3 separate regions of the Homo sapiens genome follow, and regions 1 and 2 are each linked to region 3. The links come from fine-mapping of genetic effects on gene expression. A gene starts in region 3. Each other region holds a variant in brackets. All regions are shown on one strand. Distances are between the middles of the regions. Region 1 has its middle 30 kb from the start of LINC01121. Region 2 overlaps LINC01121 (long intergenic non-protein coding RNA 1121). Region 3 holds the start of SIX2 (SIX homeobox 2).

Evidence for each region.
Region 1: its variant is fine-mapped to the expression of SIX2 in aorta (GTEx, PIP 0.91).
Region 2: its variant is fine-mapped to the expression of SIX2 in aorta (GTEx, PIP 0.97).

Annotation. Positions count from the first base shown.
Region 1 is chr2:45,280,390-45,288,566 of GRCh38, forward strand. No RefSeq gene overlaps it. Among named protein-coding and RNA genes, the nearest start is that of LINC01121, 30 kb to the left of the region's middle. The variant G/A (reference allele first, on the strand shown) is at 3,471.
Region 2 is chr2:45,221,771-45,229,947 of GRCh38, forward strand. All of the region lies in intron 1 of LINC01121 (long intergenic non-protein coding RNA 1121), which reads right to left. Among named protein-coding and RNA genes, the nearest start is that of LINC01121, 29 kb to the right of the region's middle. The variant T/C (reference allele first, on the strand shown) is at 3,290.
Region 3 is chr2:45,004,923-45,013,099 of GRCh38, forward strand. SIX2 (SIX homeobox 2) reads right to left here and starts at 4,530. Exons shown (of 2, transcript NM_016932.5): 1 at 3,629-4,530; 2 at 260-1,563. The coding sequence starts at 4,188. The coding sequence ends at 1,248. RefSeq lists enhancers at 864-1,407, 1,408-1,951, 3,225-3,998, 5,003-5,602, 7,866-8,177.

The DNA of each region.
Region 1 (8,177 bases), 280 kb after region 3:
GCTGGACGGACTTTTCGAAAGGACCCTGGCTAGATAGCACGTCTCAAGGTTTCGCAAATGTTCCTCCATCATAGGCCTAAGAAAACAGAACTTGTTCTGTGGGCAACTCTTTGCCAAACAGCTGGACGATGGCACCTCTAATAACGATGGAGCTTGTGCACCAAGCAGAATCTTCCAGTTTATTTGATAGCATAAGAGGTTTACGAGCCTAGGAAATACCTTTGGTTTCACTGCCCCAGTTGAAATCCCTTTTACGTTTTAGTTCCTGCTAAATCAGCAAGACGAACATGGCTTGGGTTAGGGCTGACGGGGAAGAAGATACCTCTGGTCCCTAAACCCAGTTCACTGCCAAGCCCAAACAGCCCCCAGTGGGCTCCATCTCATTTCACTCCTACAGTACACAACCTGCCCCCGCCTCCCCCGACAACCACCACCACCACCACCAGGAGGGATCTGCACAGTGGTGAAGCCACGGAGACCCAAAGCACGCCCAGAACCCAGCCTCCACACGAGGCTTACAGCTCTCTCGCCCCGCTCCCTCCTCCCCGGCATCCTCTCCCTGGAGAACCTCTCTCCTTTCAGGAAAGGCGAATCAGCCAGCGGCCAGAGCCGTGGTAATGGAGCTCAGACACGGGATCGGGTGTCTGGAGGGCCCCACTATAAACTGCGGGTCACATCCTTCAACTTGATTCCTCGCTCCATCTTACACTTTGTGTGTTTCTGGGGGACGCGGCGGCTGATGGTGAGAGAGACAAGTCCCTGGCATGGGGCTGTGGAATGAGGGATTGTTCTAAAATGGAAAAATTACTTCAGGTCCAAAGTGGAGCGACTGATTTCAGACCGTGGAGGAGAGGTGAGGGAGTGCCACCCTGGGGGGCTCTATCACAAGTCTCCATTTCCCCCTGTGAGCCCCAGGAAGAGGACCCAGCCCTTCTCTCTGCTCGTGCTCCAGGAAGCCTCCTCAGAACTGTGTCTGGAGGTTCTGGGCTCCCTGTTTTCTCAAGTATAACATGGAAATCTCTGAGAAAATGAGATAACATATCAGTGCACGTCAGTCTTGGGAGGAAGAATCCTTGAAATGTGCAGGAAGGTTATTTTCCATTCTGGTGACCACGTAACTGCAGAGAAAATGCTGCCTTTCCTTCCCTAGCAGTGACGATGTTGAATGGGAATGATGGTGGCACCTGAGGACTTTTCACCAACGACGCATATGGTGGGTATCTAAGGAGACAAAGTCCCCCACAGAGCTGCCATAAACCTCACTCCTGTTTTCGTGGGAGGAGTTGGAGGGGCCTCTCACCCTAACCCAGGGCCCCTGGTCCCTGGACACCAGGAAAAAAGGGGCAAGCCTGCCCAGGCCCACCCACCTCCATCTGCTCACACCCTCAGGAATCAGAGAGGAGGCCCATTCTCCTAGCAGAGGCCTCCCCTCTAGGGCTGCTCTGTGCCCCAACGCACCATTTGTGGGTCACACTTGAGTCTGGGCTTTTCGGTTGAACAAATCTCTCTCCCCCACAACAGTCGTGGCCTGACAGGCTGATGGTGGGACTGCTGCACGACAATATTTAGACACACTGCTAACTATTTCCAGCTGCCTGGAGGACCCCGGTACTAGATGAGGTGAGACTCTTCAAGGTTTCACTGCAGAGGCGAGGACAGCCAGAGGGCATTCCCTAAACTTTTTTCTACTGTCCTCCATTTGATGAAAGACTTGTGGTTAAACCTTTATCTTCCATAAACATTTAAAATGTGGTTACCTTGATTTCCATGTCTCATTTTCGTTTTATTAAAAAAATGGGTTCCTTGCAGTAAAACATCTGATACTGTGGATGTTCTGCAGAAAACAGATGTTTCTCCATGTAATAGACGTCGGCAGGCCTCTGTGCGCCCACCAGGCCTCACTAGCACTCACACACACGCATGCACACGTGTGTCTCATGAAAGGCCAGGGCAGGGCTGGCCCTGTGAGGAACGCTGAGGCTGAACAGCCACTAGGCCATAGGGCTTGAGTCCCTGTGGACTCAAGCCATGAGACCTTTGGGCCAAGAGGCCAGAGACCACGCAAATGCACCACCGAGAGAGGTAACGAGGCCTGGAACCGTAATTGGGGGGTTTCATCACTTCTGAGGTCTCACTATAAACACTTCCCTCCATAGTTCCCTGTTTTCACTCTCTAGGGCCTCCTCACACTCTGCCCGCAGCGGGGCTAAGGGCAGAGTTAAAACCCAGCAGGTACAATCTTTCTCGAGGGTGCACAGAAACACCTGAGGACCCTGCCAGGTCAGCCTTTGGCAAAGCTATAGGTAGTCCTTTTTTCCATCTTCCTTCTCCTCTTTCCACATCCCAGTCCTAGGCTGAAGGGAGGCCCATAGGGGCCCAGGGCCTTAGGAAAAGCCACTGTTTTTGCCTCCTCCACCCAGGACACACACGCACCTTTGCCAACCTTATGACTCAACCACTGGGACAGCCTGGCTCACTCATTTTCCCAGGAAGTTTGCTTCCCATCCCTCCTGGGGATTCCGCTGGAGCTACCTGAGACACCTGAGGCCTGCTCCCTGCCCAGAGACATTTGGATTTTTGTGGAGACCCTGAAAAATGAAGAGTTATCAAGACCCAAAAGAATTAATCCCTGGCTGTTGAATGCCTCCAGTGCTAAGGAAGCTGTTTCTGGGCAGGAGGGGACTCTGCCATGCTGAAGATGGCCCCTGGCCACTCACACTGCCCAGCCCAGAGGGCAGCATCACAAAACACACCCTGCCTCAGGATAGCCAGGTACCCTCTCAGCCTGCCTCCCTCTGTTCCGGGAACCCAGAAGCACCATTTCCCCTGTCGATACTTCAGGATCACTTGAGGAGGGCTGGCTTTTGCTCAAAGTCCTGTAGTTCCTACAAGCTGAAACTTAGAGGCAGCAATTTTGTGAAATTATTTCCCTAGAATTATCTTTATTCATGTCCATTTCACCTCATTCCAAAAAGGATTTGTGAAGCTTTTAGAAATACAAATAACGTTTTTTGTAAAAGGTGGTATTATAGCAAATGACTGAAAAACGAGGGGAGAAACATAAGATGAATTTCAGTGGCTGCAGAACATTTTTGCTAGGAGGAACTGCAAATTTGGCTCTGGGCTTCCCAGTTGCTACAGCAGAGAGGATATATGATTAGTTACAAGAATCACAGTGTCACTAAGGTAAAAGCAAACCGTCACTCACAAGAATCACAGATATTCCTGGGAGTGAGACTTAAAGCAAATTCTCACATGGGCTCACAAAGGGAGTGTTCAGGTATGTAGTAAACCATTTGTTTTCATCTTGAAAAACAAAATAAACTTTAAAAACTGGATAAATCTTTTCCAAATTTAATTTCATAAAAAATGTAAAGAAATTTCAATAGACAGAAAAATTGTTCTGGCTGCAGGGGACAAGGGCTCCATGCTATGTTCAGGATGCCAAAGTATCCCATAACCTCACTCCC[G/A]AAACAGCTCAGTCAGACTGACTTGGTACTGCATGAGTCACTGTTTCCAAACCTGCGAGAGGGTGTAAGTCCCCTGGAGGGCTTGTTAAGCACAGGGAGCCCAAGGCCCCACGGCAAACTGACTGCATCAGAATCTTGGAGAGGGGGAACGGGCATGGTCTGTAGCCCCAGGTGACCCAAGGCCAGCTTTGGCAAACCTGCCACAGACAAACATCTCAATCGTCTGGCTGAACTAGATGGTAAAAACCCATTGAAATTACCAAACTCTGTCCTGGGTGTGTGGCATTCATCATAAGGTAGGGCCCCTGAGGAGGTCTCTGCCAAGAGAAACACTCTGGGAAAGACAGCATTGAGTAAGCTCTGAGGGCCATGGGCGGGCTGCAGTGATTCGGGAGAGGGGTAGAGAATTTTCCTGCCCCCTCCCTGGCAGCATCTCCCCCGCCTCCACACCAGCTACCCCTTCCCCTCCTGCCCTCCCTGTTCCCAAGGCGAAGCAGCTCTTGCTGTCCTTTCCTCTGAAACATGCAAATACCACCAGGCAGGGTGAGTAACAGGTCTGCCCCTCCATGTGGCAGATGTGGGAGAAAGACAACACCTTGGGTGAACTGACTGCTCTGGGCGTTGCTCTGTCTCCTTAGTCTAGCTCACCCCTCACACACAAGCCAGGGCAGGCTTCTGCAAACCCTATGGTCATCAGGTTACTTCCAGTTTGAAAAGTCCTTCAATGACTTCCCAGTGGCCATGACTTTTGTCTAATCATATCATGGTTAAGAGCTTGGGCTCTGGAACCACACGTGGGTTCAGACCCTGGTGTTCCCACTTAGGCTCTGTGTGCCCTTGGCAAGTTTTTAACCTATTCAGAGCCCTAATTTCCTCATCTATAAAATAATGATTCTGCCTATCCACTAGGCAGAATATGCTAGGTTTTGCTGCAATAACAAACAACCCTGAAATCTCAGTGGATTACAACAACAAAGTTGCATTTCTTATTCAAGTAAAGTTGGCTGGAGGTTGAGGGATCTCCCCAAGGCTATTGTCCTCTACATGGAAGCTCAGAGATCCAGGCTGTCTCAACTATGTGTCACCCCTGTCTACCATGTGCTTCCAGGATACTGGAGGGCCTCGTGGAGACTATTAAGTGCTTCAGCCTAAAAAAGATGTCCATCACTCCCATTCACCAGTCACTGGTCAAGTTTCTCAAATGGTCTTGCCTCCAACAAGGATGTGGGAAAGAGAAATTATCCTGTGTCTAGAAGAGTCCCAGATATAAGGGAGCACTGAACACAGGTGATAATGTTTAATGTTTAATGGGGTGCTGGTGGTAATGAAAGGAAATAATCCATGTAAGCCTTCAGCACGGTTTCTGCCATATAGGAAAGGTTTAAAAAATTTTCATCTTTTGCCTCCTCTGCCATTCTGGTTCTGAACAGTGTTCTGAAAAGCAGTTGCCCATTTCCTAGCTTGTGATTTGACCCTCCAGGCTCGGGTCTTTGTAGCCTCTCATTTCCCTTGAGCCCAGTGTTCATCATGAGATTTGCATCAGCCATTGTGAGAACCCTTGATGCTACAGTGGCAAGAGGCCAAGGTTGATTTCTCATCTAATATTCAATCACGCACACTACACACACTTACATGTGTTAAAGAGTGCGTATTCCAGAGGTCATGAATTAATGTTTCATCAGCGCTGTCATCATCAGTGAATAAGCTGATCCAAGGTCCAGGAACAGGAGGGGCCACTAAATAGAGGAGAGAGCATTCCTGGGAAAGGAGTGAAGACTCGCCAGAGTCCACATCTGTAAAATGGGGCTGATGCTCCTGCCAAGCTCACTGAGTTGTTGGTAAGACTTGACAAGAGCAGGAAGCCTGGTCCCCTATGACATGCCATCAAATGCAGAGCAGTATTTCTCTGGCAGGTGCCAAATATTATGGAATTTTTCCTGGAGAAAATGCATCAGCAGAATCCTTTGAAGATCTCCAGTGCTTCTCTTCTGTCCCTAGGGGTTTCTCTCCTCAGAGGTCTCTGCTTCCACCCTCACAATCTAATTCTTCTCCCCTGATAACTGACTCACCATACAATTGCATAGCTCAGTATCTCTTCTTTGCAGCCTCACTGGGAGGGGGCGGTCAGATTGCACTGGAGAGAGTGTGCAGCTTTTCCAGAGCTTTGCCCAGTACAGCCCCAAGCTCTGGGGAACAGCTTACTGCTACCCTAATAATAACAAGGCTCACACCACCATTACACAACTTTAATACCAGCTTTTATGCGGGCATCTGGGGATGTGTGTGCTTATGAGCAATTTGTAATGAGAAAAAGACCGACCTGCAGCAGGCTGGGAGGGGAGGGACCCAGAGCACCAGGAAAGACAGGCTCCATCACAGGGGCCGCCCCAGGCTCTGGGGACAGGACTGCTGCCCTGGGATGTTTAAGGCACTATTTGATCTCTTGTTAAGTCCCACATGGCTTCAATTTCCATGTGCTCTGAAAGAGAATGGAATTAGAGTCAACAGATCCATCATGCCTCTCATAAAGATGTGCTCTTACTCAAGAAGAAGAAAAAGAAGAAATGAAAACTCACGTTCACGGAAGACCTACTATGTGCCAGGACCATGTCAAGAGCTTTATTTTCATGCATTATTTTATATGAGCCTCACAATAACCCACTGGGGTAGATTTGTTGCTGTTTTTTGTGGTAGACTAAAAAAAAATAGCCACAATATTTTGCACCTCATCCCATCGAGAAGTAGAGTCTGTTCCCCCATCCGCTCAATTCTGTATTGACCATCCTGCTTTGGCCAGTGGGGCATTAGCAAACACAATGTAAGGGGCTTGAAAAGTGCTTTTGCATCAAGGCTTTCCCTCTCTCAGCTTTGAACCCTTTTGCCACTCTGTGAACAAGCACAGGCTAGCTTCCCGGGGATGAGAGACCATGTGGAGCAAGGCGCCCACCTCTCCAGCCATCCCAGCTGAGGCCACAGGCATAGGAGTGAGGCTGTTCTTGACCATCCAGCCCCAGCTGAGGTTACCCACACCTGAAGAACTTCCCAGCCAACTTACATAATCATGAGAAATATTCAGTGCTTGTTATCTTAAGCCACTATGTTTTCAGAAATTTGTTATTCAGCAAAAGCTATCTGATACATCCCTTTTTTATAGATGAAGAGCCCAAGGCTCCGAAAGCTCAAGTCATTTTGCCAAGAATCCTCAAATAAAATTGGCAGAGCAAGGATTTGATCCCCAGGCTTATATTTAGTGCCCTGAATTACCTGCTTTCCCCTGCAACTTGCTAGCACGTAGAGAGAGATGCCTGAGAGAAAATTTCCTTAAGAAACGCTAACTCCCCCATAGAGCCGTCATCACCCATTCCATTTTGAGGAAAGCTGGAAACTCTCCAGTCCTCTAGAGAATTTCTGCTTGGATAGGCACAGCACAGACCTGAAAGTGTTTCTCTAGATGGCATTTTCGTAAGTGGAAGCTCACTTTTCCATTGCCTCTTGTTAATGAACTGCTGCATCCTTACCTCTGAAGATTCTTCTAAGGGCACAGGCAACTGCTGCTGGGGTCTTGGTCCCTCTGGCTAAGAGACCCTCAGCACTGGTCAGGTGATCAATGTACCTTCAAGTACAACTGGAAATCTCCTTGGTCAGCAATTGTACTAAGAAGAATCACTTTGGATGTGTGAATTTAAACTACCTTTTTTTTTTTTTCACCCGGGCTGGAGTGCAGTGGCATGATAGCTTACTGTAACCTTGAATTCCTGGGCTCAGGCGATCCTCCCCTCCCTCCTCAGTCTCCCAAGTAGCTGGGAATACAGGCACTTGCCACCACACCAGGTTAATTTTAAATTTTTTGTAGAGATGGCATCTCACTATGTTGCCCAGGAAGCAACCCTCCTGCCTCAGCCTCCCAAAGGGCTGGAATTACAAGCATGAGCTACCAAACCCGGCTGAAACTACCTTCTTATCCTGACATTATATTTCAAGAAGGGCCTGCCTGAATATTGTCATACCCGCCTCAGGGAGGCCTAGTGACAGTTTCATGTCCCAGCAATCAGTTCATGAGAACAAATCTCCCTGGCAAAGCCCTGTGGTGCTTGCTGGTATACTCTCAGGCCAGTCTATTCCCATGACATAGGCAAAAGGGAGCTTATGAGTTCTGGGTCCTGGACACAGGGTAGCCCTCTGTCTTGATGCAGGATTGGCTTTAAGCGGACTTTTGAAATAATCACTGTTATATTCTAGCACTTCTGCGCTCTTTTTCAGGCCCCTGGCTTCTCTGCTTCTCCATTTTGGAATGAACCCTATCCTTCCACTCACCTCCCCTGCCACCAAAGCACTCCATGCTTTAGAATTATTTCTCCTCTCCCTTCTATCTCCCTTGACTCTTCTGCTCTCCTTACCACCTAGATGGGCTGGACCTACATAGTGGCTTTCCTTTCGCTGTCCTCAGTTTGTTTCTTTTTTTTCTTTTTCTTTTGTTTTTGTTTTTGTTTTTGTTTTAGACAGAGTCTTGTGCTATCACCCAGGCTAGAATGCAGTGGCACGATCTCAGCTCACTGCAACCTCCACTTCCTGGGTTCAAGCAAGTCTCATGTTTCAGCCTCCCAAGTAGCTGGGATTACAGGTGTGCACAACCACACCTGGCTAATTTTTTTTTATTTTTAGTGAAGGCAGGGTTTCACCATGTTGGCCAGGCTGGTCTTGAACTCC
Region 2 (8,177 bases), 220 kb after region 3:
AGCGAGGGGATGGGGGTGGTGAAGCCAGGCTTGGAGCTGAAGCTGAGGTCTAAAGTTTGGGGGCAGGTGCCTGCCTCCAGTTCTGCCTCTGTCACTCTGGCCCCCTCTTCTCTGGGCCTCAGTTTCCCTGTTGGTAAAAGGAGGAAGTTTGAGTAGGTGATCTTTGAAGTCTTTTTCACCTCTAGCATTTTCCAGTTTTTCAATTCTGTCTCTTTGACCACCAGTTCCTACAAGTTAGAAAACTCCAGTCCACCCAGATAGGTCTCAGTAAAGATGTAAACTCCCAACACAAGAGTGACAGCTAACCTTCCTGCATGTTGACCAGGTGACAGAAACCACTATAGCTACTTTATCTGTGTTGGCTCATTTCCTCCTCACAGGAGCCCAAGCCTCGTATCCCCATTTCACAGATGAGAAACTGTAGCAGAAAGAGGTTAAGACATGTACCAACATCCCAGGTGGTAAGATAAAGGACGAGGCCTCAGGCAGTGTGCTCCAGAGGCTGTGCTCTGACCCCCCAACCCAGACTACACTTCTTCTTCATAGATGAGTGACTATAACGCCTCTAATAGACACAACAAGCCAAAGGTGCAAACAACCCAGATGTCCATCAACAGACAAATGGTTAAACAAAACTTTCAGTGGAATATTATTCAGCCTTAAAAAGGAATGAAGTTCTGATCCATGCTACAACATGGGTGAACCTTGAAAACATTATAACTTTATATGCTTTTAACATTATAAGCTTTAAAATATTATAAGGCTAAGTTAAACATGCCCAGCCACAAAGGACCAACACTGTATGATTCTACTTACATGAAATATCTAAAATGGACCAATTTATACAGACAGAGAATAGATTACAGGTTATCAGGTGCAGGGGAGAAGGAGGGATGGGGGAGTAATTGAAAGAGAGTTGCTGTTTGGGATGATGAAAAAGGTCTAGAAATGGATGGTGGTGATGGTTGTACAACAGTACGAATGTACTTAATGCCACTGAATTGTATACTCAAAAATGGTTGAAATGGTAAATGCTGTGCTACATTAAAAACAAATTTTGGCCGGGCACAGTGGCTCAAAAGTTGTAATCCCAACACTTTGGGAGGCCAAGGTGGGCGGATCACCTGAGGTCGGGAGTTGGAGACCAGCCTGACCAACATGGTGAAATCCCGTCTCTACTAAAAAAATACAAAATTAGCCTGGTGTGGTGGCACATGCCTGTAATCCCAGCTACTTGGGAGGCTGAGAGAGGAGAATAGCTTGAACCCGGGAGGCGGATGTTGCGGTGACCCAAGATTGAGCCATTGCCCTCCAACCTGGGCAACAAGAGCCAAACTCCATCTCAATAAATACATAAATATTAAAAATATCATAATAAAATAGATCTCACTTACTGAGCTGCTGTTAAGACCCTACTGTGCTCAGTGACTTACAGGCTCTGCCTCGTGTAACCTTTACAGCCACCCTGTGAAGGAAGCTCCCCTGTCATGCCACCCACTTCACAGGCAAGACGGCCAAGGCTCAGGGAACAGATTCCCTCAGGACCCATGGGTAGTGAGCGGCAGAGGGGACACATACACCCAGGTAATGCTGAGAGCAAACTCAGAGAGGAAGGTAGAGGACGATCTGAGAAGGCTACGAACAAGCTGAGACGAACCAGGGCGTGGGGCCCATACCCTACCTGTGCCTGCCAGGTGCCAAATTCCACATTTATCTTTTCTCACATTTCTCCCTGTATTCGTTTTGTGTTTTCTTCCCTGTTTTACATCCAAGCAACACCTTTCTGCCTCATTCCTCCACTGATATCACTGCCTCTGCCTTGTGTGCTCAAGACACCTCCCATTCGCCATCCCCCCAACCCCCCGCCGCCACAGCATGGCAGGACAGCCTGTTGGGTTTTGGGGGCGGGAGGGAGCATAGGCCTGTGAAGCCTCATTCTATGCTGAGGGGGAAAGAGGCCCAGATCTCCACTACAGGGGACGAGAAGCGAGCAGCTCCTCCCACACCCCCACTGAGGAGACTCCCAAGGCTAGGGGCAGCTGGCTGATGGTTGAGTGTCCCCAGGAGAACCTCAGGGAGACTGGCTGGGTGACTCCATGGGATGCCAGGCCCTGGTGCGTTACTAGTTTCGCCCAGTCTTGGCTGACCCCCTATGTGAGCAGTGTCAGGGCAGTGAGTTTCCTTTGCCCCTTAACTTTTTCTGTTTAGAAAAAAAAAGTGCAGCTCGCTGCAAGCCTCATTTAATTTTACATAAACATGCTCTTTGAGGCTGAAGCAAATAGACTGATTTTCAATGCGAAAATGAAATATAAAAACTGTTCTTGGAGTCATTTCTAAACACAACTAACCCTGGAATCATCTGTTTCAGAAAACTCAGATTCATCAAATGAATCTTTGGCCAAAAATTGTCCAAGAACGATATTAACATCACTCATAAGAATGCTACGTTTTCAAGGATTTGACATTTTCAGCAATCGAGAATTGCTATACATTGTGAATGGAAATACCACTACTAAAAACAGAATGCTACAAATAGAATGATGGCTTTTGTTGCCAAAGTCGACAACAATAATAACAGCGAGATATTCTGTGGCAAAGTTATCTTGGGGTAAACGTTGCAGCTGCAAGCGCTGCCGGCAAGTATTCTCAGGGCAAACAGGAAAAGGGTTAAATAACTGAGAAGTGCCTGTTCCCACCGAGGCACGTGACATTTTGCATGCAGGTCACCCAGAAAAGCCAAGCACATCTACACACAGACTGCCTCACTCATGTTCAGTTTGTAGCCCCCACCTAAGGCATTAGCCTGGCCCCGAAGGGCCTTAGAAACTCCTCACATGAAAAAGCTCAGGCAAAACTGTCAGATGACAAAGGCTGTGATTGTGGGGGCTGGAGGGGATTTTTGTATGTCTACGACTTGCTCTCCCCACCTGGCATCCCCCGAGACATTTCTGCGGCATTCTGTTCCCCCTGCACCCTGCAGCCTGTGACCCAGATGTCTGCGGATGAGCTGTGACTCCCCTCAGCTGGGATAAATGCCTAGTTTATCCCAAGAAGGGTGACCACTTCCAGATGATAGATTTCAAACGTAGGCTTCCATGCCCTCAGTAGAGTCACTATTGCCTAACAGAGAGGACTCTGGTGTCCAGCTTCTGGGGTCTGACTCCTGACTCTATCACTGAGCAGCCCATGGATCTTGAGCAAAGCTGTGGCTGAATTTTCCTCATTTATAAACTAGAGCTGATGATATTACCTACCTTGTATATTTAAGAGAATTAAATGGGATGAAGCA[T/C]ATAAAGTATTTAAACCAGTGCCTGGCACAAAGGTCCTATTTAATCTATATTGGCTATCATAATGGCAGACAGACATTGTTAGTCAGTCAGCCTCAGCCCCAGATTCCTTCTCAATATAAGTAGCAAAGTAAAGCATCCAGGCTAGAAGATGTCTAACTTTGCTTTCAGCTTGAGAATTTTCTGACTGGTAGTATCGTTCCCTTCTCCCTGAGCTGGGACTCCTCTATTCCACCCGTCTCCTATTATGCTAATGCAAGAACAACTACCCTGCATCCACCCCCAACACGCACTTTAGATCCAAAATTGGTCCCCGGTTTTCCCATGCATAATTTTAAACAACTTTATTAAGATAGAATTCGCATACTATAAAATTTATCCATTTAAACTGTAAAATTCAGTGCCTTTAGTATATTCAGAGATGTGCAGCAATCACCACAATCAACTTTAGAATATTCTCCTACCCACCCCCCAAAAACCTTATACCCCTTAGCCATCACCCATCAATCTCTCCATTTCCCCACTCCCACCCCACCCCCTGGAAAACATGAATCTACTTTTTGTCTACAGATTTGTCTCATCTGGGCATTTCATTTAAATGGAATTATATAATATGTGGTCCTTTGTGACTGGCTTATTCACTTGGCATTGTTTTCAAGGTCCATCCGTATTGTAGCATGTATCAGTACTTTGCTTCTTTTTATTGCTAACTTCAATTCCACCGTACAAATATAGCAATTTCATTTATCAGTTAATAGGTTGGTGGACATTTGGATTGTCTCCACTTTTTGACTATTATAAATAATGCTGCTATGGACATTAATGTAGAAGTTTTGTGTGGATGTATGTTTTCATTTCTCTTGGGTTGATGCCAAGGAGTGGAATTGTTGGGTCATGTGGTAGCTCTATGTTTAACCATTTGAGGAATTGGTAGAATGTTTTCCAAACCAGCTGTACCATTTTAAATTCCACTGGCAGCATATGAGGGCTTCATTTCTCTACATCTTTGCCGACACTTTTATTAGCTGGGTTTTTGATTATAGCTATTCTAGCAAGTATGAAATAGTATCTCATTTCCCTGATGGCTAATGATGTTGAACATCTTTTTATATGCTTATTGGTCATTTGTATATCCTCATCAGAGAAATGTCTATTCAAATCCTTTGCTTTTTTTTTTTTTCTTTTGAGACAGGGTCTTGCTCTGTCACCCAGGCTGGAGTGCAGTGGTGTGAACATGGCACACTGCAGCCTCAACCTCTGGGGCTCAAGTGATCCTCCTGCCTTAGCCTCCCAAGTAGCTTGAACCACAGGCACATGCCACCATGCCTGGCTAATTTTATTTTTTTTAACTTTTAGTAGAGATGAGGTCTCACCATGGTGCCCAGGCTGGTCTCAAATTCTTGAGTTCAAGTGATCCTCCTGCCTTGGCTTCCAAAGTGCTTGGATTACAGGTATGAGTCACCACACTGGGCCCTGTTCTCACTTTTTGATTGGGTTATTTGTGTTTTTATTATTGAGTTGTAAGAGTTCTTTGTATATTTTAGATACAAGTCCCTTATTAGGTAGATGATTTGCAAAAATTTTCTCCCATTCTGTGTGTTGTCTTTTTACTTTCTTGATTGTATCCTTTGAAGCATAAAACTTTTTAATTTTGATGGCATGCTGAATAACTTTTGTATTTGATATGAGAAGCAGAGGCAAAAATATCATGATTTGTAGATGACATGACTGTATATCCTGAAAACCCAAGAGAACCTATTGAAAAACTGTTGAAAACAAGAGAATTCGGTAATAAATCCGGTTATTAAATTAATATACAGTAAACAATAGCCTTTATAGAAATAAATATGTAACAGAAGATATAGTAGAAGAAAAGGCCCTATTTTCAATAGCAAAAATAGTATAAAATACATGAAAATAACTTAAAAATTTCAAGAAATATGTGAAGGAAACTTTAAAATACTCCTGGGGACGCAAAAGGAGCTTGAAAAGAATAAAAGGTATATTATATTGTTAGATATGGAGATTCCACATCATGAAAATTTCAATTTTCTATTCAGTTATTTTATAAATAATGTAAATCTAATATGATTGCAATAAAGACACCTATAGGACCTTTTTCATGGAACTAGAACAGCTGATTGTAAAGTTCATATTAAAAAATAAACAAACAAGTATAGCCATAAAAACCGGGGAAAAAAGGGTAGTGGGCAAGCTTTGGAGTGAAAATCAAGAAACCAGGGCTCTAGGCCCAGCTCCGCCCTAACAAATGGAAGGACGATTCATCATTTCTATTGGGACTGCAGTTTCCTCATCAGCAAAGTAAAATATCCATGTTAGACAATGTCAAACCTTGCCTTCAACTCTAGAATTTTCTGATTGATTCTGTTACAAGACTGCGAGTTCAAATACTCCAGACTTGGCCAGTGCCACGTCCACTCTAAATAAGTCAGGACAGCTTAGCTTGGCAAGGCAACTAAGAGAATGCTTGGCCGTGTAGATGAGCTTCTGGGACACCAGGGAGGCCCTTTGCCAATAAGCAGGCTTAGCCTTATTCCCATTCTGTTTCTGGCATTGCTCTATGGGGTTTAGATGGTTGATTTGACCTGGCCTCTCTCTCCATTTCCTGCCCACTGAAGAAGTAAGCAATGTATTTGGGTCTTGATGCAGTTCCTCTGAGATCCTTTCTTAGAAGCCAATATGAATAAGAGAGGGGAGAAGAACAGGGGAGCACAGAGACTCCACCAAGGGAGGGTGAGCCACCCAGGGGAAAAGAGAAAATGGAGGCACAGAAAACCAACACTGCAGATCTCTTAGTCCCAGAGAGACTGATATAGTTTGGCTGTGTCCCCACCCAAATCTCATCTTGAATTGTAGCTCCCATCATTCCCACATGTGGTGGGAGGGACCCCGTGGGAGATAACTGAATCACGGAGGCAGCTTCCCACAGACTGTTCTCATGGTAGTGAATAAGTCTCACAAGATCTGATGGTTTTATAGGGGGAAACCCCTTTTGCTTGGCTCTCATTCTCTCTTGTCTGCCGCCATGTAAGATGTGCCTTTCACCTTCTGCTGTGATCGTCAGGCCTCCCTAGCCACGTGAAACTGTGAGTCCATTAAACTTCTTTTTCTTTATAAATTACCCAGTTTAGGGTATGTCTTTATCAGCAGCATGAAAATGTACTAATACAGAGTCCATTCCAAGAGGATTACCCCCATTTAGCCTGATATTGGAAACATACACTTAAGCAGAGAACCCAGATAAAGGTCAAAACCTAAACTTAAAGTGAAATTAAATAAATTAATACCTTTATATAAAAAAGAACACATGCATCATCAACTAAGTATTTGTTGCTTTGAACACAGTAGAATAATTTGCACAAGAAGAAAAGGAAAACTATCTTCTCTACCCAGACAGGAAGGACTTTTTAGGGAAAGGAAGCTGTAAAAGAATTCCTTGAAGGAACAAGAAGATAATACTTGACAAAGCTTGCTAGGATTTGCTTTCTCCAAAATCCAGAGAAGACATAGGAGAGAGCGATGAGAGTGTGACAAGAGAGCAAATAAAAAGTTGAAGCTTCACTTGAAGATAGGGAGGAGCCGAGGAACTGGGGAAGAAATACTAGCCACCATGGCCAAGCACAGTGAAAGGTTCTGTAAGTGTACTGACATAAAGTAGGTTAGACAACTCTTTTTTTCCTCTGGGAGTGGGACAATTCCCTAATACCAGGGCCCTGCAGGGAGTTTTGGAGGTGACATTCTGGGGACTGGCATAATTCCCTATGATATCATTGCAGGACATCTAGGGAGCTGGGGGTCTGATCACCTCCCAGCATTCTTTACCTAACCTCGGAAATGTTCATGCTATTATACTGCTAGTGGCCGAGCAATGACTTGAATTTAGGTCAACTCAAGTAATTGCTAAACTTCTACCATGAGTCCAGGTTCATGCTAAGGACTCCCGTAAACAGAAAAGAAGCCAGAGTATGGTCCTTGCTGTTTAAGGAGTTTACAGCTGGAAAAAATTATAATTCCATATTGGAAAAATGATGATTTGTAAAATTCACCCAAGTCTAGCATTCAATGTAAAAATGGGTAGAATAGTGAGTGAAGCAGGAGTTCAAAGGGTCAGAGGACTGAGTGGCCAGGGCAGACTTTACAGAGAAGGTGGAACTTGACCCTGCTCCACGTCTCTGACAGGAAGGCCTGTCTTCCTTCCCGTCTGCCCCCAGGCATGCAAGGACCAAGCCAGGGTCAAGGAGTGGAAGAGCAGCTTATCCTCCAGAAGCCTAGAGGTGAGGCTCTAAGTGGGAACTTTCTCCTGGCCTATCTTTTTCAGTGCTGTTTGTTTGGCAAGGGAACAGATTTTCCTGTTACAACAGCCAAAAAACAGAAAATAAATCAAGGAAAGAGTGGCAAGGACCAGCCTGGAAATGAAGTTAAAATATCTAGGCTTGCTGAAGACAACCACAAAATGGTTTTCTCCTCAAAGTGGCTGCACAGCTTAGAGGGACGGCAGATCAGACTGCTCTAATGGATCTAGGGACATATTCTTCTCCCTGACAACTCCACCCACACCTCTTCCCACCCTATTTCCTCCAAAAGCCTTTTGCAGATGGTGCCTCTTAGTTCCCAGAACCAGTCTGGAGCAGTGATTAAAGGACCAAAATTCCAGGAACCATTTTTTTTTCTTGTTGTACAGTTTGGCAAATGCTTCAGCTATGCTAAGACACAGTGAACCATTTAAGAGTGACAATCAAGATGCTGGAGGGAAATTAAGGATTCCACTGAGCATGGGGCCAGTCTTCAAAAAAGTGGTTGTTAGTGAAAAGAAAGGATTCTGTGAACACTCTTTCTGGGCACCCTTCATCCCCATAGGCACTCAGGCCA
Region 3 (8,177 bases):
TGTGCGCGTCGCTGGTGTGGGGAGGGCAGCAGGCTGCCCCTCCCCGCTTCTGCAGCGAGTTTTCCCAGCCAGGAAAAGGGAGGGAGCTGTTTCAGGAATTTCAGTGCCTTCACCTAGCGACTGACACAAGTCGTGTGTATAGGAAGGCGTCTGGCTGTTTCGGGACTCACCAGAGAGCATCGCCAACCAGAACGGCCCACCCGGGGTGTCGAGTCTTGGTAGGGAAATCAGACACAGCTGCACTCCCGGCCCGCGGGCCTTGTGGCATATAACCATTTATATATTTATGATTTCTAATTTTATTATAAAATAAAAGCAGAAATATTTCCCGAAGAACATTCACATGAGGGCATTACGGGGAGACGGCAAGTCGGCGGCTCGGGGGGCGCGCTCAGCCGGGAGCGCTGTAGTCACAGTCCCGGGAGGAAGAGCGCGGTGTGGCGGGGCCTCGCCAAGAGAGAAGGAGGAGGGGCGTATGACGAGGCGGCGTTTAGGGGCTTCTGTGGCGCTGCCCTTTCTCTCTCACTTAAGTTACTAGACGAAAAGCTGACACCTGCAGCTCCCACTGACCCACATGGGCGAGGGAAAAGGCCTCAGGAGATGGCCTAGGTTCAAAGTCCCTGTATTTTCTCTCCTCTTCCCTCTCCCACCCCCTACTCCGGTAAAGCGAGGGCCAGAGGTAGGGGCAGATAGACCACCAGTCAGGAGGAGAAAGACAGGGGTACATACGGAGGGACCAGGACACAGAGTACAAGAGACTGGCAGGAGAGAAGAGAGGAGAAACAGAGAAGGAGAGAGAAAGGGAGAGACAGAAGGAGAGAATGAACGGTGGCAAGCTAGAAATCTAGAAGGAAAGCAATACAAGGAGAGGGAGAAAGACAGAAAGCAGAAAAAAGAAAAGAGAAGGAAGGGAAAGGAAGAGGAAAGGGGGAAAAGGCAAGACAAGAGAGGGTAAAAGGAAGAGACAGAGGGAGAGAGAGAATGACAGTGGTGTATAATTTATTCCCTTCTGTGGTTCAAGACTCAGTCTCCAGCCCCAAAAGGATCCTAAAAGTAACTTGTTGAAAATAAATCCCAAACAAGAACCAACATAGACAGCTATCTGCCCTACCCGGCTGTTCTACCCGCTCAGCCTGCGGGTCTTTCAGTACCTGGTGGGGCCGCAGGGGCGGGGCGCCCCTGGACACCGCCACTCCACGTCCCCAGTGTCAAGTCACAAAAGGCAAGCTCATCAAGGCAAATGGGTTCTAGGAGCCCAGGTCCACGAGGTTGGCTGACATGGGGTTGAGGATGGAGTCCTGCAGGCCATGGTGGTGTTGCAGTGGGTCCGCTCCACCTCCGCCTGGCACCGGCACTGGCACTGCGCTGGGGCCCGGAGGGTGGCCCAGGCTGTGCAGGGACGGCAGCCCAGGGGGCGGCGGGCTGAGGAGCAGTGCGGGGCTGGATGATGAGTGGTCTGGCGTCCCCGATGGAGTCTTCTCATCCTCCGAGCTGCCTAACACCGACTTGCCGCTGCCATTCAGCGGGTTGTGGCTGTTAGAATTGGAGTTCTCGTTGTTCTCCCTGCAAGTGCGGGAGCAAAGCAGCGGGGTCAGCAGGGACATCGAGACCACCCAGCGCCATCTCAGTCACAGTCAGAGCCAGCCACCAGCCTCGGGAGACAGATCCCGGGCTTGTGGCCTGCGGGTGTTTTCGGTTTCTACCATTTCCTCGACCTGGTCTGGGTTCTCCTTTCTGCCCGTTCTCTCCATCTCTCAACACCCAATTTCTCTTGCCCCTCTGCCCTTATCGTCCCCACCTCTCATGCTGTCAATCTCATCAATATCTTTTCTATATTTCCTCTTTCCCCCCTTCCCCAATATTTCTTTTCAGGAACAGAGGTGCAGGAGAACAGGGTTCCCTGAAGTTGTGGGGTGAGCCGGGAGGAAGAGACGATGCCTGGATTTTCAGATCACTCTAGGCTCCACAAGCCAGGTTTGCTGGGTAGATGTGGGGCTAGCAGGTTAAGGAACCCTGGATCCCAGGTCAAGGGATTTAGGGCCTCTCACAAGACTTCATTTCCCTTTGCTTTTTCTGCCCGAGGGAGACCCCTGGCTGGGAGACAGGCTCCTGGGGCTAAGCGTCCTTTCCCTGTAGCTCCAAACTGGGCAGCCCTGTGAGGGCTCTCCTTGCTGGGCCTAGAGACAAGGGTCCAAGGATGGAGGACTCCCTTTCCGTGGTGGTACAGTGAAAACGTCAGCTCGGAGACCAGAAGCTTGGGGGATAAAGGGCAGCCCCTGGGAGAAGGCCGAGGCTTTTCCATTGTAACCAGCCACTCCGGGAATCTGCAGCTCTCATCTGGGGCCTGGTCTGAGAACCCAGGTTTTCAGGAGTCTGATCACATGCCGGTTTGGGTGGAGGGGGACCCAGCAGAGAGAACCCACCTCCTTCTATGCCTTTGACTGACAGCTCCTCCCCAGATTTGGATATTTAAAATCCTGGGTAGGATCTCTTGTCACCAGCTTCGGGAGGGTTTTTCTTTCTGCTTTCCTGGGAGGGAGCTTCCCACAGGGCTGGCAGCTGAGACCTCACCACTGTGGAAACTCCAACCTCAGGGTCTCAGATACCTGGAAGTATCTGAGCCTGCAGCACTCCCCCTAAGATGTTTCTGGTTCAGCACCCTCACCTCTGACCCTGATCATTCAAACTCAGGGTGGAACACACCCCATATCACCAACCCCAGGTGTCCTGTTTTGCTCTTACCCCGGGCTGGATTCTGTTCCCATAATAAGTTTCTCTCCAGGTTTGAGGTCCTGAGGGGTTATAGGGCAGGCAGTGGCAAGGGCCTAATGATCAACCTTTAGGCTGGTTCAGGAAGTCCTGGTTTACCTGAGGACATCCAACTCCCAGCCCCTCTGTGCCTCTCAGCTCACCGCAGACATTCCGACCTACCCATCAGAGGTAGGGCCTAAGGAGAGAGGCATCAAGGGCCTGGAGTGCCAGGGAAGGGCGGCTATCTCTAGCAAGGCAGAAAACAGGGCATGCGTCTCTTCTCTCCCAGAACTGACACTTCCTCCCTTTCACCTCTGGATCCTTTCTAAGGAGATAAAGGACCCGCTCTCAACTCCATGTGACAACGAAAATTCATGGCCTGGCTTTTCCCCATCCAGGTCATTCTAGGGAAGTTCCAGCCCCAGTCCCGACCCCATCACACTTTGGCCTGGAGCTAAGGCTGGGGGGAAATGCCGGGAAGCACCACCAGCAAGAAATCTGCAAATCCCCTTTCATCTGGGCTCAAACCCCTCTGTCCTGAGGATGACCAGACCTACTGTGCCTGCCTCACAGGGGATACAGGCCCACAGTTCTGCGCTGCCCCGAAGCTCTCTGCTTCTCCACCCTTTTCCTCTAGCGACCGAGTAGTTAGTTGACAACTTCCTGAATTGCTCTGCCCGCTTTAGACAAATCCCTGCTCGCCGGGTCTCCGGCATAGAAAGGCCTAAGCATCGTCCAAGTCAGGCCGGGCTGCCGCTGGGCTGTGGCCGGGCCTGGGGGCCCAGTTTAGGCCTCTCCGGGGGACCGGCAGAAGCCCTGCGAACCCCTCCCTTGGGCCCCGGGGAGCTGGCGCCGAAGAAGGTCTACTTACTCGTACCTTTCCTTGGCCTCGGCCGCCCGGTCGCGCTGCCGCCGGTTCTTGAACCAGTTGCTGACCTGTGTGGTGGTGAGGCCCGTGGCCTCCGCCAGCTCACGCTTCTCGCGGGGTGAAGGGTAGGGGTTGTGCGCGTACCACTCGCGCAGCACGCTGCGACTCTTTTCCTTGAAGCAGTAGCTGGTCTCCTCGCCGTCCCAGATGGAGCGCGGCAGCGGGAATTTGCGGCGCACGCGGTATTTGCCCACGGCGCCCAGGGGTCGGCCGCGCAGCTTCTCCGCCTCGATGTAGTGTGCCTTGAGCCACAGCTGCTGCAGCTTGGCGTGGTTGTGCGGCGAGAACTGGTGGCTCTCCAGGATCTTGTAGAGCTCGCGGAAGTTGCCGCGGTGGAAGGCCACCACGGCCTTGGCCTTGAGCACGCTTTCATTCTTGTGAAGGTGCTCGCAGGCGGGCAGCGACCACAGGAAGCGGCCCAGCCGCTCGATGTTGCCGCCCTGCTGCAGCACCTCGCACACGCACGCCACTTGCTCCTGCGTGAAGCCGAAGGTGGGCAGCATGGACATGGTGCCGGCTGCGTCCCCGCCCGCCCGCGCGCGCCCTCACCGGGCCGCGCGGTCCCGCATGGGAGCTTCCTCGCCGGGCCGTCCGGGCCGAGACGCGGGCGGGGCTGGCCCCCTGGCCCGGCACTGGCCCCCGGTGAGCCCCGAGTCACTGCCGTACGTCCCCGCGCCGGCCGCGGGTCCCACGAAGCTCCGAACCCCAACGGCCCGCGCGCCTGGCCCAAGCCCTCGCCCAAGCCCGGGGGCCGCCCGGGGCGCCGCTCCGCATGCTCCGCGCCCGCCCGCCGTTCCCTCGCTCGCTTCTCACTCGTTCTCCCTCCCGTCTAGCTGGCTCTCAGCTTTCTTAATAATATTATTCTAAGCGGGCATGAGGCGCGGCGGCCCGCGCCCTGATTGGTCCGGTTATCTGACCCGGGGCCTGCCAGCGCCAGACAATAGTCGGAGTCAAATTATTCGCCATGGAGACGCTGTCAGTCACTGGTAACCCGAGCCTCGGCGGGCCGGGCGGCTCCCCCCGGCCGGCTCCGCTGACAGATCGCCCCGCTCCGCGCAGAACTGAGGGCGGCTCTACTGGAGCCTGGGGCGCTCTGAGAGCCTGGGAGGCGGAGAGGGGCCGGGTTGGGGCCGGCGGCGGCGGAGATTGACGGGGCGGATGCCCAAAGAGGGAGGGAGGAGGAGGACAGGAGAGCGGGGGGAGCGGGCGAAGACGAAAAGGGGTGGATCGAGGTGGGGAGAGAAGAGGAGAGAAGGGAAGGCGGAGACCGTTTAAGGGGGTGTCCAGGAGGAAGGGGAGGGAGAGGGGTGGAAGGAGACTCCAGGGGAAGAAAGTTTGGGCAGCTTTGGCTAGGAGAGGGCTCTGCAGCCTCGCCCAGACCCTACAGGGTTCCCCTTCTCCCCAGGTCACCGCGTCCCTCCCAGGCTCTCTGTTCACCGGGCACATTCTACCCCGGCGCAGGCCAGTGGGATGGGAGAGTTTGGACGTGCTCGGGTGCCGCCCAAAGACTTGGCTTTTTCTGCTGACAGCGCCCCACCCCCATCCTAGAAACTCTGGACTCAGCGGTCCTCGAGGGAAAAGGGGAGGGAGTAGACGAAAGAAATGGGGAAGATTTGGCAGTGGCCGCAGGCGGACGCCGGAGAATCGACTTCCCGGAGGATCCCGCCTTTCCTCCCTCTCCTAGCCCCGCCGGCTGCCTGGCGGCCTGTACCGCCCCAACTCTGCGCTCTCTGCTCCTCGCCGGGCGGGGACTCAGACTTAACCCCACGGGTCCCACAGCCCGAGGAGCGCCAGGCAGTTCCGTGTGGCCTCTATGGAAGCTGACTCCGGCCGGCAGCTGCGACGCAGAACCCCGGACGGCGCAGACCCGCAGTCTGCCCACCGGGGCGGGGGAGAGGGGCGACGGCAGGGACTCTAGGACGGTGGTGGGGCTTCCCCGGTGGGTGGTCGGGGAGGAGAACGGAGGCAAGATTCCCAGTCCTCCCGCTTCGCCGCTGGGGATCGGCTCGGCTCCTGGCCACTCCAGCCTGGGAACCGGCTCGCTGAGCTCCGGGATGAGGTGCTTTAAAAGGGGGTCCTGTTTTTTGCTTCTTTGTCAGGGTGCCAATGGAAACATGTGGTGCTGGTCCTGTGGGAGAAGGGCTCGCACAAAGGTGGGAGAACTGAGGATGGGTGTGTTCTTGCTCTACGTTTTGAAAAGCCCGGGGCTTAGCTCCTTCCCGGACATGTCCTTTCCACTTCCTTCAGTTTCCTCCTCTTCCCCCCTCAGCTGCTGCAGGCCAGGAGCTCCTAGGGCCATACTCAGTGCCTGACCCAAGCCAGCACAAATCCTGGGCTCTGCCCTCAGCCAGTCTAGGGCTATGGAACCCGAGTCTAGGCCAGTTCCTTCTTTCCCACCCTTTTATGCTTTCTATGGAGTTTGTGCTAGGAGCGCGGAATGGGAGTCTAGAGCCCTGGGTTCAACTTTTGGTTTTGCTTGGTGTCTATGGTAAGGCATATATTTATGCCTTTGTGTTTATTTCCTTCTCTGCAAGATTTCAAAAATTTTCCCTGTGCTGCAGCATTCCGGAAGTCCTTTGGGAGTGTTGTAGGCATGAGAGAATGGAACCCTGGGACTCCTCTTAAGACTTTAGCTTCCAGGGGCCTACCCTGGCATGTTGAATGAGGCCACAGGGCTGACAAAGTAGGTCCCAAGCCAGTGCGGGTGCAGAAAGGGGAAGCTTTCTGCAGAAATCCAGGTGGCATCTTTAGAGTCTGTATCTGTGGGCTGGGAGGAGGTCTGCTGTGTCCAGGCCACCCTATCCAGAGTCCTATGCACTGCTGCACAGGGGCTGCCCCAGAGTTGGATCTAAGGACCCTGGGAGACATGGAGAAGAATTTACCGCAGACTGTGATGAGGTTCAAAGCCCAATTTGCTGACCTCCAACAAAAGTGCAACGTACTCTTTTCAGCACGTCTCCTTCAGCTACGTGGTTAAAAGGATTCACCTGGCTGGCTGGTCCCAGCCCTGGCAATGGCCATCTTACATCTTAGCGTGCTTAGGCTGGGGCTGCAGAGGAGCACCCTGGTCTGGTGTGGGTGAGTGAGACCAGGCAGTCACTTCCTGGTATGAGACCCTGGGCCAGTCCCCAGTCTGCTCTTCATTCTCTTCCACTATTAGATTGAAGCCTGGGTAATCTCTCAAGTTCCTGCTGGTTCTGGGATGGGGTGGGTCTAAGAACACTAACCCTGAAAAAGCATACAATCTCTGCAACCTCAGCCACAGCCTTCACCATGAATGTGCCACTCCTCTGACCCATGAAGCTTTAAGATTAAACTTCCCCCAGGACTGGGTCCCGCCTATGTTCAGTGAAAGCAGATTTTTCTGGAGCTTCAGACTCACTGTTCCTCCAAGTGCTGCCCTCTTTGCAGCCCCTGGGCCCTAAGCCCATGAATCAGACCTGCCAGGAGCCTCCAGGCAACACTAAGCAGCACAGAGAGAACAGAACAGACATGGGGCCTGCCACCGTGGATAACATACTGTGTGCCATATGAAAAGTCATTACAGAGGAAGCACTGAAAACCTGGAGCACCGTTACCCGATGTATGGGTGTGTGTCAATATGCCCCTCATTCTCCTCCTCCCCCATGTATGTAGAAAACTGGTTCCAGCACATCTGGGCCAGAACCTCTTGGTAGCAGCAGTAGCTGGGTTACATGCTGAATGAGGGTCTCCTCACACTCCTTAGCCCCTTCCCTGCCTGGCCCATTCCCCGATAGTCTTTGCCACAGAACAGAATACTTGGGAGGTGTCTGGATGAGGATTTAATAGCCAGCCTGAGCCAATGACAATCTCAGCCCCCTAGTTGCAGTGCCCAGAGCAATTGCTGAGAGGCCTACGGGGTGCCGAAACTTTTGGTTCTACCTCACTCCAATCTCCGGAATCCCTGTCCTCCTTCCTGTCCAAAGACCCATTCCCAAGAGGCTTGTGCTTGCTTTTTATCCAGCAAAAACGGGAGAAACTCCATGGCTAGGGGGAGAAACCTTTTCGGAACCATGGAAATTTGAGCTTTACTGAAACACCTCCTTTCACCTCCAAGCTTCCCTGAAGTCCCTGGGAGGATGAGACTTTCTGGAAAGCAGCAGCAGGGGTGGGTGGGTGCTCCCCAGTGATCTCAGGCTGATGGAATAGCTTTGTCCCAGACGAATTGTCAGGGACAGTTTGGGGTCTTTGTGCCTGGAGTTGGGCAGGAAGCGCCCAGGACAGAGCCAGAAGGCACCTACTGTCCGGCGCCCATTGGGCAGCCCAGGGCTGGCACACCGCGCCCAGCGGGTGCACTTCTGGGCAAAGGAAGAAGTCAGCCCACTGGCCTCCCGAGGGCTTCCCTGGTTTTGGGATGGGGCCGTTTCGCAAAGAATAGGGTAATCTAGGAAGAAGGAGCTGCTCTCTGGCTATTTCCAAGGCCAGCGGATGGGTAGGCCTTTGTTCTGGGCAAATCAGAAACCTTGTTTGTGACAGA